Regions from separate parts of the Homo sapiens genome. Here region 1 is linked to region 2. A link means that fine-mapping ties the variant in region 2 to the plasma level of a protein whose gene starts in the linked region. Region 2 holds a variant in brackets. A gene starts in the other region. All regions are shown on their forward strands. Region 1 holds the start of CRISP3 (cysteine rich secretory protein 3). Region 2 overlaps TERT (telomerase reverse transcriptase).

Evidence for each region. PIP is the chance, under the fine-mapping model, that this variant and not a neighbour inherited with it causes the effect. The UK Biobank Pharma Proteomics Project read protein levels with antibody pairs (Olink). The fine-mapping took linkage between variants from a reference panel, not from the people measured, so its PIPs are less certain.
Region 1: it holds the start of CRISP3, and the variant in region 2 is fine-mapped to the plasma level of the CRISP3 protein (UK Biobank, PIP above 0.99).

The regions. Positions count from the first base shown.
Region 1 is chr6:49,742,955-49,745,772 of GRCh38, forward strand. It overlaps CRISP3 (cysteine rich secretory protein 3), which reads right to left and starts at 1,434. Exons shown (of 8, transcript NM_006061.4): 1 at 1,377-1,434. The coding sequence starts at 1,413.
Region 2 is chr5:1,284,247-1,287,064 of GRCh38, forward strand. The region is part of intron 2 of TERT (telomerase reverse transcriptase); the gene reads right to left. Among named protein-coding and RNA genes, the nearest start is that of TERT, 9.4 kb to the right of the region's middle. RefSeq lists an enhancer at 2,228-2,818. The variant C/A (reference allele first, on the strand shown) is at 1,613.

The DNA of each region.
Region 1 (2,818 bases), not on the chromosome of region 2:
AACTAGTCACAGCACAGAAAAGTATTTGATGCAATATTTTCTTACTTAAAATTTAATAGTTAATCTTTATTCTGATCACTTTCTTTCATCTTATTATGTATCTGTGATACAGAAAGCAGCCTATGCCAATATGCAAAGTTTGCAAAACTGCTAGACTTCATCAAGTAAGAAATTCGTAAAGATATCCAAATAAGAATAGCTGTCTTGCATTTCTTGAGAAGCACTTTTTTTTCAAGGATGAATTCCCTCCCTTTTACTTGAATTCAATAAATAACGTAACTGAAATTCATAGCAATTATCAGATTTACATTACTTGAGAATTCTGACACTCTTCCTCCCAATTCATCCCTGCCTGTTACAAATCAGAAGCCCCAATTTACCTCATAACTTATCAATGTAGGGTAACTCCCAGGCTTGAAACTTGTCATCAATTTAATTTCTTTTGATCCACTTTCAGAGGTCTTAGTCATACAGGCAGACATTCTAGATTTGGTTTTAACTAGCAGAAGAGGCAACACCGGATCTTCTATGGCTATTGCAAATACTCCCAGAGTTTCCTGGATAGCATTTAGCCACAGGGAAGAAAAGCATTTTACTTTAAAATCTTCTGTCTAGTGGTAAATAACCCCTTTCATGTTGTCATTAGGTAGTTCTGTGGTCTCCTACTATCTGACTCTTCAGAATCACTTCTAATATGCTACGGAAGATAAAGCCGTATGTGGAAATTGCTTCCTTAGATGAAATATGCACGATAGATATTATATTTAAATTACCTACATAAACATGACTGAGTAGACTGACTTTTGACTGAAAAACTTCTAAAAGCCTTTTTTTTTTGTTTTTGATCTGAGTGCATTTCATGAGGTAAATTGCATTTTATGTTGATGGTCTTTAATAAAATACTTTTTAATCTTGAGATCAGTGCTATAATTTTGTTTTGACCAATTTAAAACTTTTGCTATGGCATCCCATATAGCTGTATGTTTTAATATTAGTAAAAGTTACTGATGTGAAAGTATGCACACACATATATTCATAGTTTTTCATTTTTCTATTAAAAATAGTTCTAGTACAATTGTTTCCACAAGTCATAGACATGGGAATTAGTTATATTACTTTAGAATGAAAGGTAAAAATTTATTTAAATTTCAAACTGGATAAAAGTGCTTTTGGAATAATAAAGCTGTCTATGTATTAGCTTCTCAGCTTAAAATGAATATATTAAGATAATTACTCTCATTAAAAGTTATCAATAAACTTTGGAAAATTGTAGATAAAATATACGAATATATCACTTTATCATTGATAAGGTATAAATGTGTTGTTCACCTTGAAATAAATAATGTTCACCTTGAAATAAAGGAGTTATCACTTACCAGTGGTTTCCAGAGCAGGATGAAGTATTTGTTTCATCTATTGACAGAAGGAAGGTGCAGAGAGAGAAGGTTAGAGCCGTATATATGAAACACCTATTTCCTGTTTTGGCAAATTCTGGTTGTGCAAGTAACTCTAGATCAACAAGGCCTGAAACAGGATTTGTCATACCAGTAGTCTCAAATTTCATTGCTGGTTTTCTAGTCATGATTTTGAAATTATTTGGTGATTCCTCAAATGGCTTTTAAAAATAAATTGCTATATCAAGTTTTGTAATTGTGCATTTATTCTTTGAAGTTCATATATTACAATTTATCCATGTTTTTGCCAGTCAATAGTTTGAAAATTCTTAGCCCAATTATTAGCATCACAACATTAGAGTTTTCAGAATTATTTCTGTTGGATTGAAATTAAGCTCATAATTTTTATGAACTCTAGAGAACACAATGTTTTTTACAGCTATCTAAAATGTTTATTAATAATCTATTGGACATTACTGTTTTGGATAATAATTTTATCTTTAATGTTTGTAAATACAAGGCCACAGTGACTTTCAGAACTCAATGGCCAAACACACCATAACTCATTGGTATTTCTATATTCAAAGATGTGCTGTATTTACTTGTATTTTCTGGTTGTATAAAATTAAAGATAATATTGATCTCCAAGCTAAATTATCATTATTTGGTTCTGTTCATCTATGGAAGATGTCAATCATTCCAGGCTTGTTTCCATAGCACAATAATGAAGTGGGGTGGACTAACAATTTCAGATTTCCTCTGATTCTAAAATACAATAATCTTAAATATTGAGTTTATATAAATAAAGAAGTATAAATTAATAAATCACAAGTAGCATATACATAGCACGCAGACATTTCTGCATGCTCATATTGGCATATAGATTGCACCTTGTGGTGCATAATTCAATAGTTTCTGTTCATTTTCATTTTTATATTTAGCTTTATTGATCAATGTGACAAAATGTATAATCACAGATCAATGTCTACACAATAGGCACATTTTAAAATTATAGTTAATTTTGAGTTCAAGAATTGGATACTTCTAAATGTCTGTTATAAGAGAGTTGAGAACTCAGAAACTCAGGTCAGATTTTACCATTAAAAAATGGTTAACCATTTGCTGCCATGTCTCCAAGTAACTCCTAGAATCTGTTTACTTTATGAACATGTGAAGTGGAAGCTCTCAATAAACCAAATCAGCTATGTGGAAAAAATCACCATGGAACAACCTTCTACACAATCCTCTTTCTGTGGCAAAATGTATTTTGTGGGGAAGGACCAGACCCAGAAGCATCCACAGCCCATTCTCTTCTCTACTTAGTGGTGTAGAATGTTGTTAAAAGCTTGATATTTCTGTTTTAATGGAAATGGGCTAAATTTCTATACCAATGTGTATTGGGAAATTTTTATATTTTATTATTT
Region 2 (2,818 bases):
TCACCGAGGGCCTGGCGACCACACCCCAGACCTGCACCATCCAGACGCCGCACATCCAGCTCACAGCAGGGCCTGGCGACCTCACCCCGGACCTGCATCATCCGGACTCCATACCTCCAGCTCACCGAGGGCCTGGAGACCTCACCCCTGACCTGCACCATCCGGACACCGCATATCCAGCTCACAGCAGGGTCTGGCGACCTCACCCCGGACCGGCACCATCCGGACTCCATACATCCAGCTCACCGAGGGCCTGGCGACCTCACTCCAGACCTGCACCATCCAGACACCGCACATCCAGCTCACCGCAGGGTCTGGCGACCTCACCCCGGACCTGCACCATCTGGACACTGCACATCCAGCTCACCGAGGGCCTGGCGACCTCACTCCAGACCTGCACCATCCAGACACCACACATCCAGCTCACAGCAGGGCCTGGCGACCTCACCCCAGACCTGCACCATCCAGACACCACACATCCAGCTCACAGCAGGGCCTGGTGACCTCACACCGGACCTGCAGCATCCGGACACCCCACATCCAACTCACAGCAGGGCCTGGCAACCTCACCCCAGACCTGCACCATCCGGACACCGCATATCCAGCTCACCGCACGGTCTGGCACCGTCTGGCGACCTCACTCCAGACCTGCACCATCCAGACACCGCACACCCAGCTCACCGCAGGGCCTGGTGACCTCACCCCAGACCTGCACCATCCAGACACCACACATCCAGCTCACAGCAGGGCCTGGCGACCTCACCCCGGACCTGCATCATCCGGACTCCATACCTCCAGCTCACCGAGGGCCTGGAGACCTCACCCCTGACCTGCACCATCCAGACACCACACATCCAGCTCACAGCAGGGCCTGGCGACCTCACCCCGGACCTGCATCATCCGGACTCCATACCTCCAGCTCACCGAGGGCCTGGAGACCTCACCCCTGACCTGCACCATCCAGACACCACACATCCAGCTCACAGCAGGGCCTGGCGACCTCATCCCAGACGTGCACCATCCGGACACTGCACATCCAGCTCACTGAGGGCCTGGCGACCTCATCCCGGACCTGCACCATCTGGTACAACAGCCATGGCCATGGGAAGCCCAGCAGGTCCAGGCCGAGATGGCCACGCACGGGACCTACACACGGGATCCCGCAGACAAAGCTCAAAAAATGTCAAATGTCCTGTGAGTGATGCTCCCACCAATAACACCCTAAAATGATGAGGTGTGGACATGCTGGGCTTCAGTAAAATCTATTATTACATTAATTTCACCTTTTCTTTTTTACTTTTTTAATGTGGCTACTAGAATTTTTTTTTTTTTTTTTTTTTTTGAGACAGAGTCTCGCTGTGTTGCCAGGCTGGAGTGCAGTGGTGCAATGTCGGCTCACTGCAACTTCCAACTCCCAGGTTCAAGCAATTCTCCTGCCTCAGCCTCCCGAGTAGCTGGGATTACAGGCACCCGCCACCACGCCCAGCTAATTTTTGTGTTTTTAGTACAGATGGGGTTTCATCATGTTGGCCAGGATGGTCTCGACCTCCTGACCTCGTGATCCACCCGCCTTGGCCTCCCAAAGTGCTGGGATTACAGGCGTGAGCCACCG[C/A]GCCCAGCCTAGAAATTTTAAAATTATCCACATGGCTCACGTCATGCTCCTGTTGGGCGACAACGGCTCGGAGCCTCATCCTTTGTCCTGGTTCCCAAGCAGAAGGGAGGAAGCAGACACTCCCCCGCCAGGCAGCACCGTCAGAGCTGGCGCCACACCGCAGGTTTGCGCGATTTCAAACTCGACACCGCGGAGCCACCAGACCCCGACATGCCTGGGGTTTTCCAGGCTGAACCCAGGCCGAGCGGACGTTGCTGTCACTCACTGGCTAAGGAACGCTGGCCACGTGGTGCTCCAGACACTCACGGGCCAAGATGACCGCCCTCCTCGTGAGTCTCCACATCTTCATCTGTGCATCATAAGCAGAGGTCCCCGGACGTCGCTAGATGCCATGGAGGCCAGCACAGGTAAAGCTGGGGTTTACCAGCAATAACAAGACAGAAGAACCACGCAAAGGACAAGGAAGGGGACCCCAGACGGCGGGCCTGAGACAGAAGACAGACGGGGAACAAAGGAGGAAAAGCAGGGCGGGGGCAAAGCTACAGAAACACTCAACACGGAAAACAATATTAATAATGCTTAGCTTGTGGGGGTGTCAAGATGCCTGAGATAGAACTAAGTCAGCAGGGAAAACAGCACACAGGCTGGGGGGTGGCCAGAGCTAAAATACACTAAGGGTCTTATTGCTCAGGACAAGGGTAGCAATGTTTCAGACTTCATTTTAAAAGATCAAGGTATGCCGGGCACGGTGGCTTGCACCTGTAATCCCAGCACTGTGGGAGGCCAAGGCGGGCAGATCACTTGAGGTCAGGAGTTTGAGACCAGCCTGGCCAACATGGTGAAAGCCTATCTCTACTAAAAATACAAAAATTAGCCAGGCGTGGTGGTGGGCGCCTGTAATCCCAGCTACTCATGAGGTTGAGGAATGAGAACTGCTTGAACCGAGGAGGCAGAGGTTGCAGTGAGCCGAGATTGTGCCATTACACTCCAGCCTGGGTGACAGAGTGAGACTGTCTCAATAAACAAAAGCAAACAACGACAATAAAAAGATCAGGGGGTAACACTAAGCAAAGAGAAATAAAAGCAAATGCCCAGTGACCAGGAGGCAACGAGAGGATCAACACACACTCGGCAGGAAACGCACATGGCAACCCAAGAGGTGGTGAGAAACAAGGGAACGAGGACATGCAACAGGCAAGTGGAGAA